Linked DNA regions of Homo sapiens: all the other regions are linked to region 4. The links come from fine-mapping of genetic effects on plasma protein levels. A gene starts in region 4. Each other region holds a variant in brackets. All regions are shown on one strand. Distances are between the middles of the regions.

Region 1 (8,106 bases), 720 kb before region 4:
AAACACTGATGTGTGCTTACAGCCCAGGCAGGGACCTCCGCTTTCCCCTCTTCTCCCTCCTGTCCCTTCAGCCCCAGAGGCAGCAACAGCTTCCTGCTGCCCTAGTGCCTGGGTGTCTCAGCATTTCTTATTGGTTCCTTTCATCCTGGCCACTCTTGTATAAATAATCTCTTTATTAAATGCTCTTAAATAGAACCCTAGCATTGTTATAAGCATTTTGTGTACATCTCTTTCCTGCCAGAATCTTGACTGATTTATTTTGATTTCAAAAAATAATGATGTCTGTTACTAAGGACTAGGGGAAAAAATAATGATAGGGCACACTGAGAACTTGACGCTGCAGGTGGGGCTGTTTAAATTGGTAAAACCACTTTGGAAGAAAGTCTGGCAGTATCTAGTCCAGCTGAAGACATGGAAATTCTTCAGCCAAAGTTTCCTCTCCTGGATATTTATCTCCTGGTTTCCTCTCCTAGAGAAATGTGGGCCCAACTATTTCAGGAGATATGTAATAAGAATGCTTCGGCCATCTGCCGAGCGTGGTGGCACATGCCTATAATCTCAGCACTTTGGGAGGCCAAGGCAGGCGGATCCCCTGAGGTCAGGAGTTTGAGACCAGCCTGGCCAACAAGGTGAAACCCCATCTCTACTGAAAACAAAACAAAACAAAACAAAAAAATTAGCCAGGCATGTTGACACCCACCTGTAGTCTCAGCTACTCATGAGGCTGAACTAGGAGAATCACTTGAATCTGGGAGGCAGGGATTACAGTGAGCCAAGATGGGGCCACTGCACTCCAGCCTGGGTGACAAGAGTGAGACCCTGTCTCAAAAAAAAGAATGCTTAGGACAAATACCTAATGCATGCGGGGCTTAAAACCTAGATGACAGTTTGACAGGTGCAGCAAACCACCATGGCACATGTATACCTATGTAACAAACCTGCACGTTCAGCACATGTATCCTAGAACTTAAAGTAAAATAAAAAGAAACAATGCTTCAGCCAGCATTGTTTGCAATAGCCAAAACCTAGAAACAATCCAGAATTATAGCCATTGCATTATTATTATTACAGCCATACAACGGAATAATATTCAGCAAGAAAAATGAACTTCAGCTGCACACAAAAACATGAATGGTTCCCCCAAAAACATAATGTTAAATGAAAAAGGTAAGACACAAAAGAATATGCGTGTATTAGTTCACTTAGATAAAATTCAAAACAGGCCAAACCTAACTATGTTGTTCAGGGATATATACTTAGGAGAGGAAAATTACAAAGAAAAGCAAGGATTCTACCTGGCTTTTCTTACTTTTCTACTTAAATTTCTGACAAGCACTCTTTATAAGTGCCAAAGTCATGAAAACACAAGAAGAGACCAAGAAACAGTCATGGATGGAAGAAACTAAGGAGAAATGATAACTAAATCCAATATGGGATCCTGGAGTGGATCCCGGAACAGAAAGAGAACATTCATGGGAAACTGGCGACATCCATGAAGTTCGTAGTTCGGTAAATAGTGTTGGACCAGTGTCAATCTCAGTTTTGATAAACATGCTGTGGTTATGTAAGATGTTTCCATTAGGGGAAGGCGAGTGAAGGGTATGTGAGTATACAAAGGGCATACAGGAATTCTCTGGTTTATTTTTGCAACTCTTCTATCAATCTAAATTTATTCAAAATGAAATGAATTTTTTTTTTTTTTTTTTTGAGATGGAGTCTCGTTCTGTCGCCCAGGCTGACATGCAGTGGCGCGATCTCAGCTCACTGCAAGCTCTGCCTCCCGGGTTCACGCCATTCTCCTGCCTCAGCCTCCCGAGTAGCTGGGACTATAGGCGCCTGCCACCACGCCAGGCTAATTTTTGTATTTTTTAGTGGAGACGGGGTTTCACCGTGTTAGTAAGGATGGTCTCGATTTCCTGACCTCATGATCCGCCCACCTCGGCCTCCCAAAGTGCTGGGATTACAGGGGTAATAAAATGAGTTTTTAAAAGCAATGATTGTTACTATAAATGAAGAGCAGTTACCTCTTGAGGGAGTTAACTGGGGAGGGCACATGGGGGTGCTTAGCACTGTTCAATGTCTAGGCCTGGGTGGTAGATACGTGGGTGTTTATAAGTTTAAACTAGACATCTCTGTTTTATGCACTTTTCTGTATATTAGTTATCTCTCAAAATTTTTTACATGTTAAAAATAGATGAAGGCTGGGTGCTGTGGCTCATGCCTGTAATCCAGGGCTTTGGGAGGCCGAGGTGGGTGGATCACCTGAGGTCAGGAGTTCGAGACCAGCCTGACCAACTTGGTGAAACCTCGTCTCTACTAAAAATACAAAAATTAGCTGGGTATGGTGGCAGCCGTCTGTAATCCCAGCTACTTGGGAGGCTGAGGCAGGAGAATCGCTTGAACCCAGGAGGCAGAGGTTGCAGTGAACAGAGATCATGCCACTGCACTCCAGCCTGGGCAACACAGCGAGAATCGGGCCCCCTCCAAAAAAAAAAAGATGAAAATGACTGTCAGGCACAGTAGACACGTAGATTAGAAAATCACAGTTGTGGAAAGAGGAAAAAGAAGTAAGGAAAGCAAATATAAATCCTTATCTGGTAAAGAGAGAAAAAAGGGAGGGAGCCAAGAAGGAGGTCGCACTTCCTTTACCTCAAATGTCCAGCAAATTCATACCCATTCCATATATATAGGCCTTTTTACACAAACAAGATGCTACCACACACATTATTCTGCTCCCTGCACAATACATCGTGGGCATCTTCCACGTCGGCACATACACGGAGCAGGGCACATTCTTCATCCCACTGCACAGCACGGCATTGTGTGGCTCCGCCATCATTTATTCACTTGGTCCCCCATTGATGGATACCCAGGTTGTCTCCCGTGTCTCACGATGACACGCCAGGCTGCTGCTACGCGCCCCCCTGCACTCGAGCTGGGTACACCCCGGCCAGGGTTTCCACAGACTCAAGACCCCTAAATGGAACAACGGGTCAAAGTCAGAAAGCTGTTGTCAAGTATTGGCTGATGTGATGCGGGATTTTTATTTTCTGCTCTGTTGCTGGCATTTATTTATTTTTTACTATTTTTATTATGATAATGTATATATAACATAACACTGGTTGTTTTAAGTATGAAATGTACAGTTCATTCAGAGACATTAAATACATGCTTGCTGCTGTGCAACCATCACCATTATCCATCTCCAAGACTTTTTACATCACCCCAAACAAAACCCTGTACCTGTTAAGCAATAACTCTCCATTTCCCCCTCCCTCCAGCCTTGGTAACCTCTATTCCACTGTCTCCACGAATTTGACTGGTCTATATATTTCATATAAGAAGAACACAAAAGGACAAGTGTTGTATGAGCCCCATTGTTTTTTGGGTTGTTTGTTTGTTTGTTTGTAAGACGGAGTTTC[A/T]CTCTTGTCGCCCAGGCTGGAGTGCAGTGGCACAATCTCGGTTCACAGCAACCTCCGCCTCCCAGGTTCAAGCGATTCTCCTGCCACAACCTCCTGAGTAGCTGGGATTACAGGCGCGCACCACCATGCCTAGCTAATTTTTGTATTTTAGTAGAGATGGGGTTTCACCATGTTGGCCAGGTTGGTCTCAAACTCCTGACCTCAGGTGATCCACCAGCCTCGGTCTCCCAAAGTGGTGGGATTAAAGGTGTGAGCCACCATGCCTGGCCCCCATTGGTTTTTTTCTCCCAGAACTCACTCCAATTTAGGCACCCGCCTGGCAGAAGGAGCGATGTGGAGGAGCATAGAGGAGGAAAGTGGGGATGTTCCTGGCTTTGAGGTTCAAGAGGTAAGATGCAGAAGAGTGCTTGTTGAGTGAGCTTTTCTTCCTGCAAAAAGGGAATCAAAACAAGGGAAACATTCTAAGCTGGAGGGAGGAGGTCGAGAACAGACTAGGGATGAAGGTCTCCAGAGAAAGGCCGTGTGGGTTGGTATGCTGCTCAGGTAGGCGCTGAGTATGGGATGGGGGAGATAGTGCCTTGAATGAGTTTGGAGATCTGAAAGTAGAGGTGACCTGGGCTCCAGCCAGCTCCCATCTGCAATCTTCAGCCATGCTAGCAGAGATGGTGGGGGAGATACGCAGCCGCAGGCGACTCCCCTATATGTTCACAGCTCCAAAGTAGCACGGAGGAAGAGCTGAATGAGTGTGTGCACCTGAGAAGATCAGAAAAGTGAGCTGGGACCCACACCGGAAAGGCTCTCAGTGCTGCACAGTAAGGAGCAAATGGCGCAGATAACTCAGCGCTGGTCCACAGACACCTTCACCAGCACCATTGTTGCAGTGAGGGGTCACAGCCTAGCAAGGACTCACTACATAAGCACCCCCAAATACAGTGCCTCGCCCCCCAGGAAGCAAGGAAAGGTTCTTTACTAAGGTAAAGCAAAAATCCCCCAGGAAGGAACGTAAGAGAAGAGATCTTAATGGGCTGAAGACCCCCTCAAATGGCGAGTTTATCTTGAATTACCTAGAATTAATTTTCTACCTTCTGGTGGAAAAGGGAGGGAGAGGGAGGTATTGAGACAAAAAACAAATTCAATCACAGACTAACTAAAACTGACATATCTTGCCCACCTGAATTTCACTTTTTTTTTTTTTTTTTGAGACAGAGTCTTGCTCTGTCACCCAGCCTGGAGTGCAGTGGCACCATCTTGGCTCACTGCAACCTCCGACTCTCAGGTTCAAGCGATTCTCCTGCCTCAGCCTCCTGAGCAGCTGGGACTACAACTGTGTCACCATATCCAGCTAATTTTTTTTTTTTTTTGGTAGAGACAGGGTTTCACCATATTGGCCAGGCTGGTCTCGAACTCCTGACCTCAGGTGATCCGCCCACCTTGGCCTCCCAAAGTGCTGGGATTACAGGCGTGAGCCATCGCGCCCGGCCGCCCACCTGAATTTTAGAGACTAAAAAACTCAAAACTACCATGCACATTTTGCATCTTATATCATTTCCAAGTTGATATCCATTGGGGTTGGACCAATTTGTGCTCCCTTAATAAACACATCAGTGTGCCATTTCCCCACACCCACACTCGCATTTGTTGCCAACCTGAAAGGTACACTTTTATTAAAAATAAAATAAAATAAGTTCACTTCTTTCTGACTGCACAATCGGTTTCATCCACCACTCCATGGTATTATGAATTCTGTCCACAACGGCTCTTGGCACATAAATGGGAAGAGAATATCACAGCAATTTTAATGAATTTGGAACAGCAAGTTCTTGGCTGGGAGAATTGTGTGGCTTATTGAGGGATGTTCTTCCCTTTGGGGATTGTGAACATCATGTTCAAGGCAATATCCAAATGGAAACGACTCTATCAGAAGAAAGCAGGGAGGGGGTATGGTAGGGTGTCCTGCAAAGCTCACTGAGGGCAGAATCCAGAGGCTGGGGCTCCCAGAGCCCCAAAGATACCCCTGCCTGCCTGGCAGTCAGGCTCTCTTCCTCTTCTTCCTCCTCTCCAACAGACCCATATCCCCACCAACCATTGTCACCATCTCTAAGGCCCCTGGGCAGCATCCTGGACATTAGCTCTAGGTCCTCTGTCACCTCTCTAAACATTTACCTCTTTCTTTGCACCAGTGCATAGATTCTCAGGGCTGGAGGGGGCCTCACAAATGGTCAAGTTCAACTACACAACAGATGCCAGTTGAAACTCCCTGGTGGCATATCAGTAATGGGGTACTCACACCTCCCCAGTGCAGCCCACTCCATCCCTGAACCCCCTGACTGTACGGAGCCCTTTTCCTAAGGACCTAGAAGCTCAGAGGAAAGCTCACATTCCTCCAGGGACACAGAGTGAGTAGGGTCCCTCTTCCACATGACAACCCTCATTTCTTTGAGGACGGCATCCTACCCCCCAGTATGAGTTCCCCAGGGCTGCCGTACCAAATGGCCACAAGCTTGGTGATGTCAAACAACAGACATTTCTCCTTCTCACACAGTTCTGAGAAGGAGGGCAGTCCAAAATAGAGGTGTTGGCCGGATTGGTTCCTCCTGGAGGGTCCGAGAGAGAACCTGTCCCATGCCTGTCTCTGAGCTCCTGCAGCCGCCCGCAGTCTTTGGCATTTCCGGCTTGCAGCTGCACCTCTCCAGTCTCTGCCTCTGTCTCCACAGCAGCTTCTCCTCTGTCTATGTCTTTTCCTCTTCTGCATTTAGGGCTTACCCAGATAATCCCAAATGATCTCATCTTAAGATCCTTAGTTTAACTGCATCTGCAAGAACTCCTTTTATCTTTTTTTTTCTTGTTCTTTTTTCTTTTCTTTTTTTTTTTTTCTTTTTTTTGAGACAGAGTTTCACCCTGCCGCCCAGGCTGGAGTGCAGTGGCACAATCTCAGCTCACTGCAACCTCCACCTCCCAGATTCAAGCAATTCTCCTGCCTCAGTCTCCCAAGTAGCTGGGATTACAAGCATGTACCACTAAACCTGGCTAATTTTTGTATTTTTAGTAGAGACAGGGTTTCACCATGTTGGCCAGGCTGGTCTCAAACTCCTGACCTCAGGATATCTGCCTGCCTTGGCCTCCCAAAGTGCTGGGATTACAGGTTTGAGCCACTGTGCTTGGCCATTCCTTTTTCAAAAAAAAAAAAAAAAAAAAAGGCTACATTCACAAGTTCTCAGTGGACATATCTTTTGGGGCAAATTATTCAACTCAACGCACCCTCTAAGTTTTCTATTCTTCCGACAGAATGGTCTCAGTCCTCCTGCCATTCCTCAGATGGTGAAATGTCAAGGCTGCTCTATTCCCACTGGTACTGATGCGATGTACCCAATTGTCCCAAATACCAGCAGACATATCTCCATCTCTCCCACCAAAATGTCACACAAACACTTGTCAAGAGCCAGCTGAAGTTTCAAAACACTCTTCATCAAATTTCCTTGAGCTACAAGGGGCAGCATTAAGAAAAGAAAGCACTCAGGCCCACTTAGTTCTGCCGTTGACTGTGGTGAGCTTTTCCACTACTCTGAGCCTTGGTTTCCTTGTCTGAAACATAGGGACAATCATACCCAACTCATATATCAATGCTCCAAGCTCTCGAATAATCTCTTGTCTCACCTTAGGCTTCACATTCTTCTTAGCAAGGCCCTTCCCAGTTCAGACTCCCTGTATCGTCCCCACTCCACTGCCTCTGCCCTTTCAAGACCCTTGGCCCCTTCCTGGGCTATATCTGCTGTAGTGTCCTGGTTACAGTGCTACTGATTGAAGAAACAGAGGCCCAGACAAGCTCATACTCACAAACAGAGGCTGGTCCAAGACCAGCAAACAAAGCACAGATGGCCTCATGGCCCAATGCAACTGCCTTCACCCCTGCACCTACACCAATGCTTCCCAACGTTCTTCACATTATGGCACACAGAGAATGTGATAAAATCCGTAAGATTCACTGGGTACACAAATGAAGCTGCTCTGGTCCAAAGGTCCCAGCCTGGGGGCTCCACCAGGGCCAGACCTCCCCAGCCTCTTACCAAAGGCAGAGGGGATCTGTACCCCAGCATCTTTGGAGCCCATCTGCCATCCACCTTCAGGGCAAACACAGTGACCTGAGTGTCTGTGTCACCCAGTCCTCCAGAAGAGGAACTCAATTGGTCCTTTGCCAGCCTTGGACCTGAGAGTTCCCCTCCCAGAGAGATTTCCCCAAAATTGACTGAGAGCCAGTGCAACAGAAAGAGTTAAGGAGTCTACTTAAGATGTGAAATTAGCATGTCTACCAGTACCTATAGTTTCTGAGTTTTTTTGTTTTTTGTTGAGACAGGGTCTCGCTCTGTCATCCAGGCTGGAGCACAGCAACACGATCATAGCTCACTGCAGCTTCAAACTTCTGAGCTCAAGTGATCCTCCCGCCTCAATTCCCAAAGTGCGGGGATGACAGGCATGAGCCACCGTGCCTGGCCAGTCGCTGGGATTATCATTGCTGATATTCCTTAAGGAAGAAGGCGAGGGAAGTAAATGGGGGAGACACCGAAGATAATGTGCTGGATGCAGAATTCAGACATTGAAGAGGACAAGAGAAGACGTTTCTTCTTGGTCACTCTCATAACAGTTTCACTGGTCCTTAGGGTGGAGGGGTAGGGAATTACTACCAGAA
Region 2 (8,106 bases), 580 kb before region 4:
GCTTCTGGCACAGGGGGTCACTTTTGCAGAGTCATCCACTGACCATTGGAGCCTTTGCTCTTATGTGCCCTGGGGCAGGGGAGACCATCCCCAAGTTACAAATAGCAAGAGTTAAATACAGCTTTTCTGGGCATCTTAAAAGGAGCACCCTTCTTAAAAGTACCCCAGTATCCTGCTCTAGGAGAGAGAGCAGGTAGGTGAGAGAGCTCAGGATGGGAAGGTATCTGACACCAACAACCACAATGGTCTTATGTTATTACAAAGCCAGCAAACCGGTGGGGCAGGACAGGGGACACACCCTTGTTAGCTTTTCTAAGCCCCTTGGAAATGGATTAAACAGTGCAGAGCAGTTTTACTTATGCTGTATATTTGATGGAGAATTCTATCCTGAAGTCTTTAGTAGCCCTGGGCCTAGAGTTTATTCAGCTTCCCCAAGCTACTTGCCAGAAACTCACAGTCTGGTGATAACCGCCAACTTTCAGTTGTTTGGGGCATATGATGGTGAGCCATGCAGCACCTGCTTTGGAAGTGGTCTCCTTTAATCTAATGAGGAGCTGCCATAGGACCTGGGTCTCAGCAGGAGCTAGGCATCTGGTTGACTTTGCCTGGTTACTCCCAGCTCCCGAATCCACCCCTGCCATGGAGGGAGGCAGATTCCCAAGGAAAGGCTTTGATGCTGAAGGAAGCAGCAACTTTTCCTCCCATTATCCATTAGTGGGGTGAGGGGACTATGTAATAAATGAGCCACCATGAGCAAGAAACAATGACTTTAAAAACCTGAGATGCATTTGGCAGCAAATTGCAGAACAGTCTTCTAGACACTGATCTCAAGCTGCTATTATAGAGTCCCCCAAAGATGCTGGCTGAAGGCAGCTATCACTGAAAGTTCCAGATGGACCTGGATGATGTCTGCCTGGAACCCAAGATCCAGCATCTATACTTGGTGGCAAATGTTATCCAGGGGTGACCATGACAGCTGTTCCCAGCTAAAGGAATTCAGACTCTAAGGATTCTAGGAGCCGAAAAGCAAAGGGTCGCTGGACGAAGATGCAGACACTTTGCCTCAGGTGACTTGAATGGGACTGCTGATGCCTGTGGTCCCCAAGGGACGGAAACCACAAGGAACAGTTCTCCTGACTCTGTCTTATTCCTCCTTTATCCGCAGAACCTAACGTAGAGGCTGGCATGTTGCAGCTACTCAGTAAATTACGTGAGTGAATTAATGAATGACCGCGGCTCATTCATTGGAGGTTGGTCTCCAACTTGTCTCTCAACACCCAGGAGACCTACAGGGAAAGCTCCCCAGGGACTTAAAGCCCCAAGAAGGGATGGTTTATCCCTGGCTGAAAACATGAGCCAATGCCTGAGAGTCACCTGTGTGTGAAGTCGGCTCCTGTCAGGGAATCAGCTGGGATTCCCAGCCTTCTGGGTGGAGAGGAATAGCCCAGGAGGCAGGAGGCATGCGGAAAAGGAGGGAATGGCCTCAGGCGCTCAGTGGGTTGGGCAGTACGTGCCTTCAGTGTTTGGCCCCTGAGCAAAAAGATCGGAAAACCTAAACAGCTCTCTCCTGAGGAGCACGCGGCTTCCCTCAGAACTCCCTACCTTGTAGCTAAGGTTGGCTCATGAGGGATTTCAGCGTCAGTCTGGGCTCATACTGTTTTACAGCCAATGGTACGTGTGTTTTAGATCATCCTGTCCTGTTCCAGCCACAGCCTGAGATGTTGAAGAGCCCACCCCAAATGGCAAGGTCGTGGGAAGCATCTGTGCACCTGTCTTCAGCCTCCTGGGCCGCCTCCACCCCTACTCTAGAATACATCTATCCTGGCATTGGGGTGGAGGTGGCCTGATGCTGAGAACCTCTCCCCTTCCAGCAGCCACCAAGGGTGCAGTCACTCCCATGGGCCCTCTACTTTCTGGTCCAGCCAGCTGCCCTGCTCCTGGGAAAGCATCACTCAGGCTCCCTGAAGTCCAGCTCCCTCTCTGGGTTATGGGGCTATGGGGGCCACAGTAGGGGGCTAAGAATGACAAAGAGCAGATCCCATGACCAAAGTTGTGGCACAAGGCGGGGATGGTCTTCCAGTCCCAAGCCCCTAGCCCAGGTGCCCCTCAGGGCAAGTTTCTCATAGACTGAGAAAGAAGAGGGTTAAAAAGAACCCAGATCTGTTCCCCAAATTAAAATCTGGAACTAGGAGACCCCTTCAGAGCTCTAAGGAGGTAGTTTAAGGACAAATAAAAGGCGCACAGAGCAAGGGATAACCTGCAGCTTATCGGGTACACCAAGAGGTTCTGGCTGAGCCTGTGGGCAGTGCCCATGCCATGGGCATCTCCAAAGGGGGTCCTGGGAGACTCAGCAGTGAGGGGAGAACAGCCATTCACAGTCCTCCCTCCCCAGCACCAGGAAGGCTGGGACTATGAAACTGCAGGGCTGGGCAAGACCCAACTCTAGCCCTACCATGGCTCTCCTGAATGCAGGAGGGGATATTGACCACGTGCACCCTGGATTCGCAGACTTGGGGCATCACCACTCCTGCAAGTGCAGGCTGGGAGCCCCTGGGTGAGGCGGGAACTCAAAAGGGCTGACTGGCAAATCTGTCTCACCAAGCATCCCCAAAAAGGCAAAAGCTGGGCCCGGGATCCCGAGCACTGACTCTGCACACATGACTGATGGAGGTGGAAGGGGGTGGGAGGTGGAGGCAGGCTGGCCCCTAATTGCTTGCTCTGACAGCTCAGTCTAAGGAGGGTTGGCTGAGATGGGCTGGGCTGAAACAGTCTGGATATTCACAAAGACCCCAGGGTGCTGGGCTCTGTCGCTGTTAACTAGCGACTGTTTTTTTTAAATTAACTGGCCTCTCTCCCTGGAAAAGCATTCCAATGGAAGCTCCTCACTTAGCTTCATTTTCCCAGCACCAGCCAGTAAAACCCAGTGACCTTGATACGATCCACAAAAAGAAGTGAATTCAGTTACCTCCCTCCCTCTAGGAGTTTTACAGACTAAAGGAATTTTTAAAATCAGATACACTTTGGTAAATACTGACCTTGTCCCCCTCCCACACCCTTCTGCCTTTGACACTTCCATCCAAGAGGAAAACATGATTTGGTTGATTCCAGGAACGAAATTGCCTGGTTTTCCCCCTCCACCCCTGGATGGTCACACAGCTGGCTCCTGGCATGGGCAGAAGTGTGGCTCTCAACAAGGCTGCGGGGAGCAGGTCTGTGTCTATCTCATCTACCCATGTAGATTCCTGGCTCCCTCTGAACACAGCGAGGACTTCTCACCCCTGTCAGGTGTGGCTGGTGGCTCAGACTTTGGGATAACTCTGAGCAGGACTATGGGTCTCAGCTTAGCAGGTCCCCTCCCCTGCTAAAACCACATTGGCAGTGGTAATGAGACTCTGAGTCTTAACTTCCATCCTTTTGGGAATACCCCACAAATTCTAAGCCCCCTTGCTTCCCCTGAGCCCAGGTATGTCATTCCTACACACACTGATCGAGCTTGTGTGTGTGTGTATATGTGTGTGTGTGTGTGTGTTAATGTGACATGCATGTACTGATCCGGAGAAGCCTTTATACCAAGAATAGAGCTGGGATCTCAAGCCCACCCTCCCAAGATCAGACAGCAGAGTGAACCAGGAGGCCACGACAGGCCTTGTGTCAGATGGCAGACGATGCAGCAGGAAGCAGAACCACGGGACGTGGGACATGGGATGCTATGGGCAGCCAGCTGAGGGCTGGGGTCTGAGTTCCTCTGAAAAGCAGAGCCCACCTCTCCCCAGCTGCCCTGACACCTCCCCAGCCAGGGCTGTTGGGCTGGCCTGGATTCCAGGAGCCCCTCCCCAGGCATCTCCCTCCTCCATCACACGGAGACTAGGAGATACGGCAACAGCCATGCACCTTCTCCTCCATCTCCTCTATGGGGGCCTTGAACTTTAAGAGTGGGGGATCTCCGCTGGTGACCGTGTAATATACCGAGGTCCCATTGCTGCTGTACGGTGAAGTTCTGCCTCCGATCAAGGGGGCCTTGCCTTCACTGCTACTCTCGCCCGTCCTGGCCATGCTGCTGCCCAGGTGTGTGCTAAGGAAGGGGTGGCTGAGCAGCTTGGCTGCAGCCCGCTGCCGCTTCAGCTCCAGAAGCGTCTGAGGGCTCTGTTCCTTGTAGCTGCTCCAGGGCGGGGTGGCGTCGGCCACGCCAGGGTTGCCATAGGCCATGCTGTAGTCAGGCACCTCATGCACCTTCCAGACATCCCCGTTGGCCAGCGCATACTGGTAGGCACTGACCGGAGCCCGGAGGCCATTCTCAACAGGCATGTCCAGTTCACCTCGTGGGATCTTGGTAGGAAATTCGGAGAGTAGCACGGGCTTCTCCAGCCTGGGGTTCTGCGAGTGAGAAGGACAACATTACCAGCTGGCTGGAAGATCTGAACCTACTATCCACCTGTCTCTCTGCTGAGGGCATTATTGTTTGGACTTTTCCTCTATCTGTTTTCTCTCCCTGGGTATCGGGGCCAGGGTTTTCCTTTGGGGAACCCCCAATCTATGAATTTCCGTACAGTTGACCGACCCCTGGCCTTGCTCCAGGGCCTGGATCATGACCCAAGGCCTAGCTAGTCAACATATTTCACTACAGGGATTGGCCCAGGGATGAGTTCTTAACTGAAATTGCTTCAGTGAAGCAACCCTGGGACTTTTGCTAGAACAACTGGGAAAGAGAAGTTTCTGTAGGAACTGTGGGTAGTAAGAATGAC[G/C]TAAGCTGAGGGCTGGGGAGATACTATGTTGAAGGGTCTGCTTGCAAGTAAAGTTGGCATGAAGAAAGGCTAAGAGAGACTGCATCCTGATGACCCATTTGAAGTCCAGGATCCTTCCAGGCTCAGACTTTTCAGTTGCACAAGCCAATAAATTCCTTGTGTGTAAGTCCATTTGAGTTGGGTTTTTCAGTCACTTGTAATCCTTCCTCTGTATATGAAGCATATCTCACAAAGATTCTTACCCAGGGATCCTGTACACCTAATAATCCTTGGATAACAAGAGTTTGAAAAGTAGCTGCTTCCTAAAAACTATAAACTAAAAAATAGATACATGCAACAACATTTAAAGCACAGCAAAAATCACCATGAACAGGGAACAAGGTCAAAAGACACATGAAGAAACTAGGAAAATATTTTCAACATATATTACAGAAAAGAGACTAATTTTCTAAAAGTATAAAGAGCTCTTAAAAGTCCTTTTTTTTTTTTTTTTGAGACGGAGTCTTGCTCTGTCTCTCAGGCTGGAGTGCAGTGGCGCAATCTCTGCTCACCGCAACCTCTGCCTCCCGGGTTCAAGCAATTCTCCTGCCTCAGCCTCCCGAGTAGCTGGGATTACAGGCACGTACCACCACACCCAGCAAATTTTTGTATTTTTGTAGAGATGGGGTTTCACCATGCTGGCCAGGCTGATCTTGAACTCCTGGCCTCAAGTGATCCACACTCCTCAGCTTCCCAAAGTGCTGAGATTGCAGGCATGAGCCACCGCACCCAGCCAAAAGTCAATTTTTAAAAGCCTATCTACCCAATAAAAATAGTAGGCAGGGGATACTAATATGTAGCCCACAGCAAAATATATAGATATACATGGCATTGGAATAATATTCATCCCCACTAATCGTTAATACTATAAAAATTAAAACAACAAAATATCACTTTTGGATATCACACTGACAAATACGTTTAAAGTGTGTTATTACTCAGTGTTGGCAGGGGTATGGGGAAATAAGTGAGAATGTAAATTGCTACAGTCTCTTTGATGGACAGTTTTGCATCATCCTTCACTGAAATTTTTTTCTTTTTTTCCTTTCTTCTCTCCCCAGCTCTTCAGTAAAAAATAAAAACAATAATAATGATAAAAATTTTTAGAAAAGATTGTATACTTTGCACCAGCAAGCCCATTTCACAGATTTTCTCTCTCATTAGTGCAAAGCCTGAAAGTCATCATTGGGCAAGCAGGACACTGTGGCCAGTACTTCTATTGGCATGCTCTGTAGCTGGCAAAAAGAATGAAGGAATTCTCCACAAGCTGGCATGGAAAGATGTCCAAGATATATATATATAATCTAGTTTATAATCTAGTTTTCTAACATATATTTATATATAACATACATATATAAATATATATAAAACGTACATATATAACATATATGTACATATAACATATATATGTATTTATATATAACATACATATATAACATATATAACATATATATGTTATATATATATATGGTAATATGTGATAAGGCAAAGAACACTTTCCATAGTAAGTTTCCATTTATGAGTGTGTATTTCTTCGCTTTCTCCTTTTAGAGTCAGGGCCTCACTATGTTGCACAGGCTGGTCTTGAACTCCTGGTCTCAAATGATTCTCCCACCTCAGCCTCCCAAAGCACTGGGATTACAGGCATGAGCCACCGAGTCCAACCTTTTTTTTTTTTTTAATGGCTCCTTCTGAACTATGCAGGCAGACTGATGCCATGTCATGGAGAGACCGTTTCTTGGTGGTCCTAGTCAGTGCTTCTCAAACTTTGATGTGTATGTGAGTTGCCTAGGGATATTGTTAAAATCCATATTCTGATTCAATAGGTCTGGGTTGGGGCCTGCAATTTGGCACTTCTAAGAATTTCCTGCTGATGCTTAGAGTGGCAAAGATCTGAGACACTGATCCCATCTTGGATGCACATTGGCATCATCTAGACAGTTAAAAAAAAACATGTACAGGCCGAGCGTGGTGGCTCACGCTTATAATCCCAGCACTTTGGGAGGCTATGGTGGATGGATCACTTGAGGTCAGGAGTTCGAGACCGGCCTGGCCAACATGGTGAAACCTTGTGTCTACTAAAAGAAAAACACAAAAATTAGACAGGCGCAGTGACGCAGGCCTCTAATCCTAGCTACTCAGGAGGCTGAGGCAGGATAATTGTTTGAACCAGGAGGCAGAGGTTGCAGTGAGCCAAGATTGCACAACTGCACTCCAGCCTGGGCAATAAAGTGAGACTCCGTCTCAAAAAAAAACCATATAGAACACCAATCTGAAAGCATCACATATTATATAATTCCACGTATATAACATTTTGGAAAAGCAAGACTTATGAAAACAGTAGAAGATCAGTGATTGCTAGAGTTTGGGGAGGAAGCGTAAGTAGAATACCAGGGCTGTTTAGTGGGACAGCCCTGGTCTCTTTCACCAGTTGTTCACAATCTCAACTGTCTAATATAACCACCTAAACCAAGTGGCGAGAGCATTCTGTGTGACACTATCATGACGGACACATGACATTATGCATTTGTCAAAACCCACAGGAGTTACGACACAAAGAGCAAACCCGATGTAAACTATGGGCTTTAGTTCATAATAATGTATCAATATTGGCTCATCAGTGATAACATATGTACCACACTAATGCTAGTTGTTAATAACAGGGGAAACCAGGGTGGAGGGGGGTGTATATGGGAAATATCTGTACTTTCCACTCATTTTTCTAGAGTTCTAAAACTGCTCGGAAAAAAAAAATCTATTAGTTTAAAAAGAAAAAAATCCCTGCTGGGTGCAGTGGCTCATGCCTGTAATCCCAGCACTTTGGTAGGCTGAGGTGGGAGGATGGCTTCAGCCTAAGAGTTGGAGACCAGCCTGGGCAACATAGTGAGACCTCATCACTACCCAAATATTTAAAAATTAGCTGGGCATGGTGGTGCGTGCCTGTGGCTCAGCTACATGGGAGGCTGGGCAGGAGGATCACTTGAGCCCAGGAGGGTGAGGCTGCAGTGAGCCATGTTTGTACCATTGCAGTCTAACCTGAGTGACCCTGTCAGAATGAGACCCTGTCTCAACAAAAGAAAACAAAACCCACCTATATCCATCTCCAGTGTCAGAAATCAGAGCATTGAAGGAAGAGGAATTAACTCCAGCCTGAAGGATGTGGGTTAGACGAAAGAGGTTTTCTCATGATGCAGGGAACTTCTAAATGTACTTATCTGCCTAATGCTTAATGAGGTACAAATTATGGGCTGAGTTCTATACAAATAAGAACACAATTGACCCTAGAACACCCTTTGTGGTAGGCACCATCATCTTGGCAATGTTG
Region 3 (8,106 bases), 1.3 Mb before region 4:
GTATTTCCAGGGACGCTGGGCTCTAATTTAGCACAGGTTAATGGACACCTCTATTAAAGGGTTATCGAAAGTTTGACATTCAAATAACCCAGTTTTAAAATCAGAGAAACCTAGACGTTAAATCTGAAGGAGAGAAACTGTGAGAGAAGTCAAGTATATAAATGCCAACTTTAGACATTTGAGAGCAACCAATGGTTGATCCAAGTGCCTCTTCCCCTTTCACCTACCCTGACCCCTCCTGGGCCTAGGCTTTGGCATATTCCCTGACAGCTGCAGGCCGAAATCTTGCAGACTGGGGAGGTCAGGGAGAGAAGGAAGGGCACGCTTGTATTAAATGAATGGTGTCCCTCACCTCCTAAAATCTCCCCCCATGCCCCTGGCCCTTCAGCACTAACCTTTTCAGGCATCTAAGGCACATTTTATTATTCCCACATAAAAGGATATTGAAGGCTCATGGAACTTAAATGATTCGTAAACAGTCACACTTCACTAGTAAACAGTAGGAAAGGATTAGAACAGTCACTATATTTCTATTTATTTTCTCTGTGTATTAATTTAACAAATATTTATTAAGCACTTACTTTGTGCCAAATTCACATACTATCTGGTTGATGTTACTAAAGAAAACAGACTCTTTCTACACCTATGTTGAAGAAAGGTCCAGCAGCTTTTTATAAAAATAAGTTTATACCTACCCTATGACCCACATTCCACTCCTAGGTATTTACATAAGATAAAAGAATATACTAATATGTAATATAATGCTCATGGCCTCTTTATTCATGGTAGCCAAAAAACAAGATAAATGAATGTAACAGAATGTCACAGAATGCTCATAATCTCTTTATCTATAATAGCCAAAAATAGAAAATAGCCTAGGGATGCATCAACAGAGGAACAAATAAACAAACTGTGGTATATCCATACAATGGAACACTACTCAGCAATAAAAGGAATGATCTATTGATATATGCTGAGACTTGGAAGAATCTCAAAAATACTATGTTGAGTGAAAGAAGTTTTACAAAAAAGGAATGCATGTTCTATAATTCCATTTATATACAATTTTAGAAAAGGAAAAACAAATCGATGTTGAAAAACATCAAAACAGTAGTTGCCTCTGGGGTCAGTGGAGTTGGAGTTTCACTAAGAAAGGGCATAAGAAAACGCATTGGAGTGACAATAATGTTTTCCATCTTGATAGGGGTTTGGGTTAGACAGGTGTATGTGTTTTCAAAACTCACCAAATTGTACACTTAACGCTTGTGCATTTTACTACATGTCCATTTTAACCCAAGAAAGAAGAATCATAAATGAATATTGATCCCTGGTTAATAATGATATACATGCTGAAGTGCTTAGGGGTGAAGTGTACTTATGTCTTCAACTCAGTTTGAAATGCATTAGGAAATAAGATAAAAGAATGAATGGATGAACAGACAGAAAGAGGGATGGATAGATGAATAAATGTGCAATAAAGATAATACAGCAAAGTGTTAGTTGTTTAATACAGGGAATATGTACATAAGAGTTTGCCTTACAATCCTTTCAACTGTTCTATATGTTTACCATTTACCATTATAACATGTAGAGAAAAACAGTTTTTAAAAAACAAAAAAGACTGTTTCCCTGTGTTGATGTTCTAAGTCTAGCAGCAAAGATAAACATTATAGAAGGTGAACACACAGGTCAATATATAATTGCATATTTTGGTGAATGTTATGAGCAGCAAAGACAGGGAATAGTGTGAAAGATGTATTGGGGAAGGCTGTTTAGATGAGTGATCAAGGAAAGTTTCTTTTGGGAAGTAACGTTTTGAAAAACTAGATGACCTTGAAAAGAGGGAAATCGTGAAAAGTGTGTGCATCCAGATGGAAAGAGAAAGCATGCCCCGAGGAGAGGACAGCATGTGTGAAGACCTCAAGATATGACAGATTCTGGCTTATGCAAAGAAATGGAAGGAGACCAATGCAGATGGGGTATGGCCAACACAGAAAATGACAAGTGAGAGGTGAGAGTGGAAAAGTAAGTAGGACCTAGCTCATTTAATAGTTTTATAGGCTCTGATGAAACCTAATTGTTCTGATCAATTATGGGTTAATTAGAGCGCACCTAGGGTACTGTGCTCCAAGCTGAATGATAAAACAACAATAATGATCACTCATAATTACTGAGTGCCTACTATGTGCCAGGCACTGTGTCAAGCATATTATAACTGTTCTCATTTAAATTTCACATCCCTCAAGCCCCATACTATTTTAAGTAAATGTATACCCATGCGTGTTTCTTGCTTCACACATGAGGAAACTGGGGTTTGGGTGAGATAAGGATGCTTGCCTAAGACTGCACAGCCAGCTAGTCCAAGGTGGAGCTGGGACATGGGTCTGACGCAATAGAGGTCAGTAGCCACGATATCTGAAGGATCCTTGGGAAAACTGGGAAGGCTTAACCTGCAAGTAGAGACACCTCCCTGAAGCCACAACTGTCACAAGGAAGGGATATTTTATTTGTACCGTGTAGTCACAAGGATCTGAATTATCATCAATGAGAGAATATTCTTAAAAAGCAAATTTGAGGCCAATGCTGGAAAACAAACACAAAAGTTGTAATGAACAGATTTATCCAGAGATGGAAAAACCACATTATGGGTTAAGATGGTTGGTAGGTGTCCTTCCCTTGGAACTGCTGGAGCCTATCTAGGTCAGATGGTCATAGGACAGAGGTTAGACCTGATGCCTTTTAAGTGCCTCTCAGCCCTGAAATTGTGGGACAGGCTCTGTATGGGGCTGTGGCTTCTCCAGCCGGTTGGCAGCAGCTGCTTTCCTGGAGCTGTATTAATAACATCTTCATTGACACTGCATGCACAAACAACATTTTCTATTTAAACAATATTCATTGCTGGCCTCCTGAGAATCACTGGTGAGACTTGAGTGCTGGCTAAATAGAAAAAGGCTGAACCGGCTGTACAAGCACAATTACCCTTCACAAGGGGGAATAAGTGAGACTCCCAGGTGGGAACAGTGTCTGGGATTTTGCTGGTCTAAGATGCTGTTCTAACAGGGCTAAAGACAGGTGACCTAAAAGTGCCTGATGCCTATGGACAGATCTCTATACGCTCATATATAATACTGTGGTTCTTCCATCTTCCTAGAGAAATGCCATTTAAACAGTACAAACAATTACAATTTGCTCCATTTTCTGTAGATAGAAAACTGAAGGTTAGGAGGAGTAAGTTCATGTTCCAAGTTGATAGATTGTAAGGGATGGAGTTAAGTTTAAAATCCAGGTATGTCAGACCCTACATCTTTTTCTACTGCACTGCACTGTCTCTAATTAGGAAAATTAATAGTCCACTCTAAAATACAGCCATGGTGACAACTCAGGGTTCTCTGTTGAGGCTCACATTTTCCATGTTATTTCAAAGATACATGAAACTAAAGGATTAACTTCACACCAAAGTTTTCAGTCTGTACTGCTTTCACCTTAAGCCAGATCTCTACTAAAACATCAGGCCAATGTCTTATCTTCTGTATCTTCTTTTCTTGCATTTATTGTTATTATTGTATTTCCAACAAAGGACGAAACTTGTCCCTTTAAGAGTCAAGACCCTACAGTTTCTTGTAGAACCCCTGGCAACCTGAGATCTGCCCAAGGTCCTCTGGCATCTGATTAAATATGAATGTGGAGGTCACGTGCTTACTCAATTGTAATTCTTTCCTTGGAAACCCCCATTACTAAGACATGATTGAAGTGGGCTGGAAACAGGACCAGCCCATTACTTATCAATTCTTAATAGACTGGTAGAATATAATAATGATAGGATGGGTAGACACGATCCTGTCTGTACCTAAAATCCAATCTGAATGAAAGCCAACAAGTTGAAACGATACTCTAGGAGACACCAGACACTCTAGGAGACATGTGGAAGTCCATTTGTACTAAGCCCAGACAGATACAAATGGGGAACCCCCTGGCCACATCTGCTCAGCTGCCTATGCTCACAGTCTATGACCCAGAGTTCCAGCCTTAAATAGGCTCAGTTACCCAACTCTTCTGTAGGCAGTGTACCTAAAACTTTTCTGTCTATCTCTATCTGTCTTTACAGCTCCTATTATTTCATTATTTATCTGAAAATTAAGCTTCAAACCACGTTGCCACTTACCATGGGAGGATACTAAGGTTATATTCTCAAAAGAACTATCGATGAGACAACCTGGAGGCTAGTTTGAGCAATCAGTTTCATCTTAAGTGCCATCTTTAGTGGATTGGTACTAGCTGTTTGGAAGACTGTGCTGAAGACCCTAAAGCTATGCCCAAGCCCAAGGGGAAAGAAGCAGTAATTGGTTAGTGATGTTTTTATAGACACAGGGAGAAGGAATGAGAGCAAGTGTGTGTAACATTTGTCACATCTGGGAGAAGTTCTCTGTTTTTCTAATAAG[G/A]ACCAGAATTCCCCATCCATGCAATTTGATCAACTGCCTGTGGCAAAGCTATGAAGAAGGCAAAGTCTCTGTCTCGTGAGACAATAAAGTCCTGGGACTATTCCAAGAAAGAGAAAGGAGGAGGAAGAGTCCTTAGTAGGAAGCAGACTAAGGGCAGGACTTGGAAGAATTAACCCTGAGATGCAGGCTCATGAAGACGCATATGGCTTCTGGCCACACTTCGATGCCATCATATGGTCTCTCTAATGTCCTCTCATCCCTGATCAGTCCTGAGACATGGATAGTTGAGTCTGTTCTGAACACCTGGTTCCTAGATTTGGCACCTGTCCTGATGTCTTTCTATGCACATTCCTAACAAAATTCTGTCATAACTTTCCACGCCCTGATCAGAATACAACTTGTCTAAGAACCTAGAAAATGTTCTCCAGTGCCTCTTTGTCCTCCAATCTTGGCACAGTGGGTAATATCACTTCATGTTTATCTATTTCAATCCCTTCACTCTGCAAAAGGGAGGCCTGAGATGTAGAAAAGACAAGAGTTTTTTTTCATATTAATCACAGATTTTTTTAATTGAAGAATTTTTTTCTTTATTTCTTCTAAAAAAATGGGATACATGTGCAGAATGTGCAGGTTTGTTACAAAGATATACACGTACCATGGTGGTTTGCTGCACCTACTGACCTGTCCTCTAAGTTCCCTCTTCCAACCCCCTTCCCCACAACAGGCCCTGGTGTGTGTTGTTCCCCTCTCTGTGCCCATGAGTTCTCAATGTTCAGCCCCCACTTATGAGTGAGAACATGCGGTGTTTGGTTTTCTGTTCCTGTTTTAGTTTGCTGAGGATGATGGTTTCCAGCTTTATCCATGTCCCTGCAAAGGACATGATCTCATTCCTTTTTATGGCTGCATAGTATTCCATGGTGTATACGTACCACATTTTCTTTATCCAGTCTATCATTGATGAGCATTTGGTTTGTTTCCATGTCTTTGCTATTGTAAATAGCATTGCAATAAACATATGTGTGCATGTGTCATTATAGAAGAATGATATATATTCTTTTGGGTATATGCCCAGTAATGGGATTGCTGGGTCAAATGGTATTTCTGGTTCTAGGTTATTGAGGAATTGCCCTACTGTCTTCTACAATGGTTGAACTAATTTACATTCCCACCAACAGCGTAAAAGTGTTACTGTTTCTCCACAGCCTTGCCAGCATCTGTTGTTTCCTGACTTTGTAATAATCGCCATTCTGACTGGTGTGAGATGGGTATCTCATTGTGGTTTTGATTTGCATTTCTCTGATGATCAGTGATGTTGAACTTTTTTCATATATTTGTTGGCCACATAAATGTTGTCTTTTGAGAAGTGTCTGTTCATATCCTTTGCCCAATTTTTGATGGGGTTTTTTGTTTTTTTCTTATAAATAAGTTTAAGTTCCTTGCAGATTCTGGGTATTAGACCTTTGTCAGATGGGCAGATTGCAAAAACTTTCTCCCATTCTGTAGGATGCCTACTCACTCTGATGATAGTTTCTTTTGCTGTGCAGAAGCTCTTTAGTTTAATTAGATCCCATTTGTCAATTTTGGCTTTTGTTGCAATTTCTTTTGTCATTTTTGTCATGAAGTCCTTGCTCATGCCTATGTCCTCGATGATATTGCCCAGGTTTTCTTCTAGGGTTTTTATGATTTTGGGTTTTACATTTAAGGCTTTAATCCATCTTGAGTTAATTTTTGTATAAGGTGTAAGGAAGGGATCCAGTTTGTTTTCTCCATATGGCAAGCCAGTTTTCCCAGCACCATTTACTGAATAGGAGATCCTTTCCCCATTGCGTGTTTTGTCAGGTTTGTCGAAGATCAGATGGTTGTAGACGTGTGGTGTTATTTCTGAGGTCTCTCTTCTGCTCCATTGCTCTATATGTCTGTTTTGGTACTAGTACCATGCTGTTTTGGTTACTGTAGCCTTGTAGTATAGTTTGAAGTGAGGTAGTATGATGCCTCCAGCTTTGTTCTTTTTGCTTAGGATTATCTTGGCTATACGGGATCTTCTTTGGTTCCATACGAAATTTAAAATTGTTTTTTCTAATTCTGTTGAGAATGTCAAAGGTAGTTGATGGGAATTGCATTGGATCTATAAATTACTTTGGGCAGTATGGTCATTTTCACGATATTGTTTCTTCCTATTTATGAGGATGGAATGTTTTCCATTTGTTCCTATGCCCTCTCTTATTTCCTTGAGCAGTGGTTTGTAGTTCTCCTTGAAGAGGTCCTTCACATCCCTTGTTTGTTGTATTGCTAGGTATTTTATTCTTTTTGTAGCAATTGTGAATGGGAGTTCATTCATGATTTGGCTCTCTGCTTTTCTATTGTTGGTGTAAAGGAATGTTTGTGATTTTTGCACACTGATTTTGTATCCCGAGACTTTGCTGAAGTTGCTTATCAGTTCAAGGAGTTTTGGGCTGAGATGATGGGGTTTCTAAATATAAAATCACGTCATCTGCAAACAGAGACAACTTGACTTCCTCTCTTCCTATTTGAATACCCTTTATTTCTTTCTCTTGCCTGATTATCTTAGCCAGAACTTCCAATACTATGTTGAATAGGAGTGGCAAGAGGGAGCATCCTTGTCTTGTACCGGTTTTCAAAGGGAATGCTTCCAGCTTTTGCCCATTCGATATGATATTGGCTGTGGGCTTGTCATAAATAGCTGTTACTATTTTGAGATATGGTCCATCAGTACCTAGTTTACTGAGAATTTTTACATGAAGGATGTTGAATTTTATCAAAGGCCTTTTCTGCACCTATTGAGGTAATCATGTGGTTTTTAAGAGAAGAGACTTTTATAGAGACCACCCAGACATAGGGCAATAGGAGAGCTGTAATGCTGACCTCCTGACTCCTAGTCCAAGGCTCTTCCCAGTGTGATTTATGTTACTTCTCTGCTTCCAGGATCAGCTCCAGAGAGAAATGCCATTATTGCAAGGTAACAGCTGGTGTTTGTGACATACTGTACATATTTTCACTCTCATAACCATAGTGGGATCCCCTAGGAAAAGACCTAACATATATACCTTAGAGATGCTCTAGCACATCTGGGGGACCACTGGGAAAAACCATCATGCTTTAAGTTTCATGCAGTCCAAGAACTCACAAGGGGCCCAAGCCAGAACTTTGCAGCTGAGAACTTGTATCTATAAGCTACCAGAAATAAAAGCTGCCTCTTAATCCCTCAGCCAGCTCATCTTAAAGTATATGAATAACACTGACAGAAGGACACTCAAAGTACATAACTATGTGTGTTTATTCATTTGATGCTTTGTCCCTAGGTAAAATATGAAGGCATGTGAATTATTTCATAATTCCCTGTTTAATTTTCCATGGTCTCTGCCTGAGCAAGAATCAAGACTGTCTTCTTGAACACATACTCCTCATTCCCACTCCCAAGTATCTAGAGTAGAGCGAGGCATGTGGCTGGTGTCTACAGATGATGTGTGGGTGAGAGAGCGTGGGTGTGATTCTCTAGGAAGATGTGTAGGTTAGATAGATGGAGGGGAAGAGACCTGAGGCTGGATGCTATCTAGGAGTGGTTCAGAAAGAGATCATGTGAAGCCCATGGCATTACACTGACTCTAGACAACGAAGACGTATGATTTTTAAAGGCCATAGACGGTGG
Region 4 (8,104 bases):
TGCCTGGCCTGCCCATTCTTTAAAATTGAGGAATAATATACATAAAGTACCTAACGGGCACAAATTTTAAAGGTATTGCTAAATAATTTTTAATGTTTATACAGGAATGTGATCACCACCTGGATCAAGATATGGCAACTTCCAGCACCCCGGCAGACCTCCCTCATGCCCTTCAGGGTCTCTGCCTGCCTCTAGAGGTGACCACAATTCTGACTTCCAGTTCAGAGGCATGTGTTTCCAAACTTTACGCAGAATTTTCCCAGCTGAGTGGTTCCCATCATCAGAGGTGGTGGCTGGTTTAATTGCACACTCTCTCCTGGCTGCCCTCCCTTCCTCATCTCAGTACCGATTCCCTACAGTGTTTCCTGGAATCATTTCCCAAATCAACTACTTGCACGCAAAGCTGTGTTCTGTTGGCTGGTGGAGGACCTCACTACCACAAATAACATGCCCAGGGCACTCAGCTGGTGGGCAGTAAGGCCAGAATAGGAGCCAGAGCCACCTGACCCAGAAGGTGGCACTGCCCCAGGGAGAGGGTCCGGTCTGTGTCCCCACTCCCTGTCCCCACTGTACCCAGAGCAGCCTGGAGCGTGGGTTTGCCAAGTCCAGCCAGCAGATGTGGCTTCTTACCATACTGCAGTCCCTTGTCGGTGATCCTGGCGACCAAGCCGGGGTTGGCACCCAGAGCCTCTGGGGTGGACGTAAGCAGCAATGCCAGCAGTATGGACGGCAGGGCTCTGGCCAAGGCCCCCATCCTAGATTCCCAGTGCAGTGGGCCAGGACTGTCCCAGCTGTGGATTGGGCCCAGGTCCCTTAAGTAGCCAAGGCTCGATGGCTGGGGGCAGTTCCTGAGGCTGGATGGGTTCCTGGGAGCGGGAAGGGGAGGCACAGGGACTGGAACCTGCTTGCGACATCACTGAAGTCATAAGGTCATACTTAGAAGCCAGTTTTCACTGCCCAGATCAGTGGATGAGGAAGCCTGACTCCTATGATCATCCCTGTCCACCCTCCCCACAGAAAGACCCCATATTCATCACTGTTCATCTTGCCTCATCTCAGCCAGTCTCTTAAGAGCTCGGCTAGGAAGGCCTGGTTTAGCAGATGAGGAAACTGAGGTTCAAAAAAGCCACATAGCTCCCTTGAGATCTCACCCCCAGCAGAGGGCAGGGTTGAGAGTGAAGCTACATCTGGCACCAACCAAACTCTCTTTTTTAAAATATATTGGCTCGTTTATTTAAAAAATAAATGTTTCCCCCAATGGGAAAACAGTGTTTCTCAAACCTTGCTGGTGGTGAAATTTTCTGGAAGGCAATTGGCAAATGTTTAAACAGTTGCATGCCCTGTGACCCAGGAATTCAATTTCAGGGACTTGCCCTTAAATACATAATTGAGTCAGTGTGCCAGTAAATCACTGCTCCAAGATACCACTGCTATGCTGTGGGAAACAGGACAGGAGAAGTGAGACCCAACCTCATGTATCCACCAGAAGGGCATTGGTTAAATGAATTATGACATGCCCCTTAAAGTGAGGCTGCAGAAATAAAGGTATTTCTTGGCAAGGAAAGGGATGTCATGAGGCATCCGTTTCCGATGGCACCATAGAGTAAGGTTCTATTTTGGGGGGTTCAAAATAGGCTTCTATGTTCAACAATCTGGAAAATATTTAGCAAGGAGTCATGAGGCATTGTCTCTGGTTGTGGGGGTAGAATTATAAGTGTTAAAAAAGTTTTTGCTTGTTGATACGTACAATTTTTTTTTCTTTTTTCATTTTTTGAGACAAAGTCTACTCTGTTGCTCAAGCAGGAGTCCAGTGGCATGAACATCGCTCGCTGCAACCTCAACTTCCTGGGCTCAAGTGATCCTCCCACCACAGCCCCCTAAGTAGCTGGGACTACAGGTGTGAGCCACCATGTCCAGCTAATTTTTTGTATTTTAGTAGGGACGAGGTCTTGCTATGTTGCCCAGGCTGGTGTCGAACTCCTGAGCTCAAGTAAGCCTCCCGCTTGGCCTTCCAAAATACTGGGATTATAGACTTGGGCCACCATGCCCAGCCTCTAAAATTTTTATTTTCTTGGGGGTATGGTCCCGGGCATATATTCGCAGTAAGTAAAGATAGTAAAATTTCATTCTGGAAAACAAAATTTATAGTACAGACTGTGTTTAATTTTTAGAGTTTTGCCCCAGCCCTGCTTACATTTGTGAGTTCTGCTTTGCCCTCACCCCCAGGAAGCCTTCCCTGACCACTCCCATGCTTCTCTGGATTCTAGAAAGGGTCCCCTCTGAGGTCCCAGAACCCTTTGCGCTTTCCCCACCACAGCATTAACCACTCTGCTTTTTGATAATTGTGGTCCTTTAAAAATATGCCCACGAATTCTTTGATATTCCTTCCATCAAAAGGTAATGTTTCTGCCCCCTTCCCTTGAAATTGGGCAGGTTTTCATGATGGCCTCAACCAACTGAATGTGGTGGGATTAACAGGGTGACTCCCAATAGGTCACAAACAGCACTGGCAGGCACTGAGGTTAAGATCAGAATGTCCCACGTTAAGCACAGGGAACCCCACAGTCCAGGCCTCTCTGCTCCTCTGTACCGTGTTGCTCCTGTCACTGGGGCTGAGGTTTGTTGGGATCCTCATCCGTCCCTCCCCTCAGTCCCCACACCACCAGTCTGATGGCTCCTTGCAGGCACGGCTGAGTCTTCCATTTCCTGAGATCCTTGCAGCACCCAGCAGAAATTGGAAAGAAACTGATATTTATTGAGCACCTACTATGTGCAGGCGCTGTGCTGGTTAAGCTGCACGTCTCCTCTCATCCTTGCATCAGCAACCCCAGGTGGATATTTTAGTCTTGTCTTGAGATGAAGAAACTGAGGTTTGGCAGGGTGAAGTGATGTAGGCTGCAGTCACCCAGCAGGAATTTAAGTCCAGGTCTGCAGGATGCCATTCCAAAACTCTGGTCAGGGCAGGGTTCTCTTGGGAGGCAACAAGCTGAGCAGAGGCCTCAGGGTAAGGAGCCAGCCTTTGGGAGGCTTTGGAGCAGGAAAGGGCTCACAGGTGCATCCCCAGTGTGCCTAGGGGCCTTTGCTTCCTGGACCTCAGCCTGCCCAGGAGGGGAGGAGAGTGGGGGAGGACATTCTGGAGCATAAGGATCTTATGGGGACATAGATGTCACTCTTCCTCTGGCAGCAGTTTAAGGATGTCCCTGGCTGGGAGTCATTTGCAGGGGTGGGAATTTCCCACAGCAGCAATCTTTGGACCTTAGAGCTGCCACATGGCCCAGGCCTGGCCTCCACCCCTGCAGGTGCCCACTGCTGGCTAAGGTCCCTGCTGATGGCCCAGGACCCAGCAGAGGCCTCAGGGAGCAGCACGACCCCACTGCTGGTCAGAACCCCTGGGCCTTTCTCCTACCAGGCTGTCCATCCAATTCCACAAAAGCAACAGCTGCTACCACTCTGGCCACCACTCAGTCTTATTGCAGTGAAATAGGGACTCTTTTAACAAGGCTGTTTATTGTGTTCTTGTGCAGGAGAGGGCCCCCAGAAATGGCAGTGCATCAAATGATGGACAGGCGATCATAAAACTGTCCCTCTGACATGATAAGTGGCCACGAATGGCGCCAAGAGGGAGAGGAGTTCCCTAACAGATAGTTGACATCATCTGGAGCCAGCAAACCACAATTCCCTGGTAAGGTCGAGCAGAAGGGCAAATGTTGGAGTCTGACTTGTATATGACCTTTTTCTTGCGGCGACGGACCAGTAAGGGAAAATCACCCCAAGTGAGCATGCGCACAACCTTAGTAAACACACTGCGCATGCGGCCCCTCCCAAGTGCTGGCAGGCCATTGCGCATGCAGGGAGGGCGCAGCAGCCCACCGAAGGGAGGAATCAAGGAGGAGAAGAAACCCCAGAACCAAGCCAGTGTATAAAAGCCCCGAGCCAAAGGTTGAGCGGGGCACTTGATCTCTCAGTTGTACTTTGCTTCTTTCAATAAACCTTTGCCTCTGCTTTAAAACTTGCCTGCGTCTCTCAATTGAATTCTTTCCTCTGAGAAGACAAGGGCTGGGAGTGTTGCGGACTCGCCACCGATAATATTCTCACTACAAAAGTGTTACTGAAAAGATTTTGAAAAACCCAGAATTTGGAATCCATAGTGTCTAGAATACTGAGCAGCAAATAGTAGATAATTGCCAAAGGAATAAACAAACCTTATGTTTATCTTTATGGACTCTGGGGCCAGATGGCCTGGATTTGAATCCTGACTCCCCCACGGGGTGACTTTGGGCACTTTGTGACTCAGTTTCCTCATCTCTACTTGGGTTCAGCCAGAGGGTGGCATGGCAGGAGGTCAGATGTCAGGGCACTTTTCCCTGCTGTCTTCTCTAGATCACAAGTGTGGCAGTTGGCTGTGTCCCTCCTGATAAGGCCTTGTCCTTGGCTCCTATTATCTCCTTGGGCTGGGATACCCAGATGCTTTTCTTTGCTGCTTGAGCCTTAGGAAAAACAGTCCCTGGTTGGTTTCCTCAAGCTTGTCCCCCAACTCTAGAAATAGCCACTTTATTCAAATCCCAAGAACCAATGCAGTTGGATTCTCTTTTCTTGCCTGAACCCTGTTGGACACAATTAGCAACACTGAGCATTTCTTCTGCACTTATTCATCTTTTGTGCAAACGCCTGCCTCTCGCAGAGAGCTTTGAATCCTTTTCCAAAGTCTTACAGGTTTTTTGTCAAGGCCCTGCTCCTAATGGGCTGGGGGACCTGGAACAAACTCCACCCCTCTCTGTTCCTCATGTTTCCCCCAAATGCAGATGAGGGCTGGGGACTAGGACAGCTTTTCAGAAACAAAGACGTGCAGTCAAGTCCCCCAGGGATCTTGTTTAGATGCAAATCTTGATCCATCATGTTCCTCTTGGGGCTGAGCCTCTGCATTTTAACAAGCTCCCTGGTGAGGGTGATGCTGCTGACCACGGATTGTGCTTGGAGCTTCGGGAACAAGGGACTAAATGAGCTCCGAGTTCCCTCCAAGCTCAGCAGTTCTCTAATGCTTCACTCTCCTTTTCGATAGTTTTCTATGACGGTGCCCACACTCCTGAGAACACTGACTCTTGAAAGAGAATGATGTTATGAATTCCTGCAGTTCTGAATCTCTGCAGGGTACTTTGGAGTTGGGAGTTTAATATTTATGGCAGCCTCTCCCCAAGCCACATCACCTGCAGATCTGAATGTGTGCCTGTGTACGCACACGCACAGACACACACACATGAGCCCTGAGACATGCGGGCTTACAAAATAAAAGTAGTAACGTCAGTGACGATCCTTTGTGGCTTGAAGGTTGCGTGTCTTGAGATACCAGGAGCCCCCATGGAGCAGGGCTGGTCATGTGGATAAACAGCTCCTCACCCCAGAGAGCCCTTACTTTTACAGATGGGGAAACTGAGACCTAGAGAGGGAGAACTGGCCCAGGTTACACTGTGAGCCTATTGCTGAACTGGAGAGGATAAATCCAGAGTTCTGGCCAGCCAGGGGCTCTGATTCTTGGGGTCAGGCCCATTCAGGCAGACAGCCCTGGATCATACATTGAGAATCACTGGCATAAATGTTTTGAGTTATGCAGATGTGGGTTGAAATCCCAGATCATTTTTAAAATAAATACTTACTGATCACCAACTATGTGGCAGGCATTGGGAATACTACTGTAGCCAGATATAGTATTTTTTTTGTTTTTTTTTTTTTGAGACAGAGTCTCACTCCATCACCCAGGCTGGATGGAGTGCAGTGGTGTGATCTCAGCACACTGCAACCTCCGCCTTCTGGGTTCAAATGATACTCGTGCGTCAGCCTCCTGAGTAGCTGGGACTACAGGTGTGTGCCACCACGCCCGGCTAATTTTTGTGTTTTTAGTGGAGACTGGGTTTCGCCATGTTGCCCAGGCTGGTCTCGAACTCCTGGGCTCAAGTGATCCACCTGCCTCAGACTTCCAAAGTGCTGGGATTACAGGTCGTGAGCCACTGCACCTGGTCAGATATAGTCTTTACAGTATAGTAAGAAGAACTGCGTTTATTCAAATTAGAGCAAACTTGGATTACTGTTGTCAACCCCTGTACCACGGATTTGACATGTATTTGATTCTCATAACAACTTTATGAGGTAGGTACTATAATGATGTTCCCTTTATAGATGAGAAATAGAAAACCTGAGAATTAAGTATACTGCCCAAAGTCACACAGCTGGTAAATAGCAGACGTGGGATTTAAACCCAAGATATCTGGGATCATGGTTCATACTCTTAACCACTGTGCCATGACCCTATCAATCATACCTCTGATTCTTCCCAATAACCTCATGCCGAGAGGGCAAGATTTTAACTCTCCTTTTCAAAGGAGGAAATAGAGGGCCAGAGAGGTTAAGGAACATTTGCAAAGTCACACAGCTCTTGAGGGGGCCGGATTTATGTTTGAAACCACCGCCAGGTGACTCCAGAGCCCAGGCTCTGAACAGTTAGCTTAGCAGGCCACACGACTTTTCTAGAGACTCCTCATCTGAAAAACAAGGGCAACCTTGGCTACCTTTAGCGGTTGTCATGAGGATTAAATAGGATCATAAGCCTGAAGAGATAGACCCAGGGACAGGGCTGCTCATGGCCACTAGCGGGACATGGCAAAATGATGAAGACAGTGCTTAGTCTTCCTGTGCCCCTCCCCACCTTCTCTCCTTGCAGAGGGTACTCCTCCCTCATATTTATTTAATAAGTCAGCATTTCCAAAAGGAACCCCAGGAAGGCTGTGCTTATCCCAGAAGGGAAGCTGCTCTGATGGTGAGCTTTTAGGCAGTTTGGAGTGAACAATTCTTTTTTTTCTTCTTCAATTGTCTTTTGCCACTTTATTGACATATATTTCATATACATAAAATTCACCCATTTAAAGTGTACAATCCAGAATTTAATTTTAGAACATTTTCAACGTCACCCAAAGAAACCCCAAACACACATTTGCAGTCATCTGCAGCAGACAATGCTTAGCCTGAAGGGAGAAGCTGCTCAAATAGTGGTTCTGTAGCCAACTTGGCAGAACCTTTGGAGTGTGTTGGGGAATGCTGCTCAAACCCTAACCCCCAAGCAACTGCCTTTCCTCAGCCATTAGAGAGAAGTTCGCAGGCACAATGTGTTTCATGCACCAATCTTCAGGTCCAAGAAAGATTTAGGTTGATGGAAAAGTAATTATTTTTTTTGGCATTAAAAGTAACGGCCAAGACTGGATTCAGTGGCTCACACTTGTAATCCCAGCACTTTGGAAGGCCAAGGTGGGTGGATCACTTGAGGTCAGGAGTTGGAGACCACTCTGGCCAACATGGAGAAACCCTGTCTATATTTAAAAATATATGTACACAAAATATTAGCCGCGCGTACTGGTGTGAGACTGTAATCCCAGATACTTGGGAGGCTGAGGCAGGAGAACGGTTTGAATCCGGGAGGCAGAGGTTGCAGTGAGCCAAGATCACACCACTGCATTCCAGCCTGGGTGACAGAGCGAGACTCTGTCTCCAAAAAAAAAAAGTAATTGCGGTTTTTGCATTAAAAGTAATGGCAAAAACCGCAATTACTTTTGCACCAACCTAATAATTGCATTTTTTTTTTTTTTTCTATAGAGTGTGGAGCAGGGGGTGCCTATATGTTACAGAAAGTAGAGGGCAGGTGTAGAAGGGGGTTAACTCCAAAGAGAATGAGGGTGGGGGATGGCAGGTGTGTGTCCATATCTACCAGCTAGTCTCCCCAGCAGCCAGAGGGCTCTTTTACAAATGTGAATTGGATTGTAACATTCTTCTGCTCAAAACTCTCCAGTGGCTTGCCTTATCTTTTGGAACAAAACCTAGAGCCCTTAACAGTCCTCATGGCCTCCCAGTCTATCCCACGCTGTGCTTCCCTTCTCTCTCTTCCTTCCGCCCTTGCTAGCTGCTCTTCTGTTCTATTCAGGGCCTCCATAGCCCCTGGCTAGTGGAGAAAAAGATGCATACTACTGGTGGACAAATTAGAGAAAGACTTTTGTTTCCTCAACCTGGTACAACCTATGTTTTACAGTGTACAACCTATGCCACAGAACAAAGAAGTTCTGCT

Alleles and levels. Alleles are on the strand shown, and positions count from the first base shown. The strength of an association depends on the size of the effect and on how common the allele is.
For the plasma level of the protein whose gene starts at base 789 in region 4, T is the low allele of the variant in region 1 and A is the other (weak association).
In carriers of allele C in region 2, the plasma level of the protein whose gene starts at base 789 in region 4 tends to be lower than with G alone (weak association).
With allele A in place of G in region 3, the plasma level of the protein whose gene starts at base 789 in region 4 is lower (moderate association).

The links. PIP is the posterior inclusion probability: the model's chance that the variant is causal. The UK Biobank Pharma Proteomics Project read protein levels with antibody pairs (Olink). The fine-mapping took linkage between variants from a reference panel, not from the people measured, so its PIPs are less certain.
Region 1: its variant is fine-mapped to the plasma level of the LBP protein (UK Biobank, PIP above 0.99).
Region 2: its variant is fine-mapped to the plasma level of the LBP protein (UK Biobank, PIP above 0.99).
Region 3: its variant is fine-mapped to the plasma level of the LBP protein (UK Biobank, PIP above 0.99).

The regions. Positions count from the first base shown.
Region 1 is chr20:39,055,236-39,063,341 of GRCh38, reverse strand. No RefSeq gene overlaps it. Among named protein-coding and RNA genes, the nearest start is that of DHX35, 97 kb to the right of the region's middle. The variant A/T (reference allele first, on the strand shown) is at 3,423.
Region 2 is chr20:38,914,425-38,922,530 of GRCh38, reverse strand. PPP1R16B (protein phosphatase 1 regulatory subunit 16B) reads right to left here. Exons shown (of 11, transcript NM_015568.4): 11 at 1-4,374. The coding sequence ends at 3,865. Among named protein-coding and RNA genes, the nearest start is that of FAM83D, 7.9 kb to the left of the region's middle. RefSeq lists an enhancer at 1,306-2,177. The variant G/C (reference allele first, on the strand shown) is at 4,743.
Region 3 is chr20:39,607,975-39,616,080 of GRCh38, reverse strand. No RefSeq gene overlaps it. Among named protein-coding and RNA genes, the nearest start is that of LINC01734, 390 kb to the right of the region's middle. The variant G/A (reference allele first, on the strand shown) is at 4,440.
Region 4 is chr20:38,339,167-38,347,270 of GRCh38, reverse strand. It overlaps LBP (lipopolysaccharide binding protein), which reads right to left and starts at 789. Exons shown (of 15, transcript NM_004139.5): 1 at 631-789. The coding sequence starts at 754. RefSeq lists enhancers at 2,736-3,513, 4,294-5,070.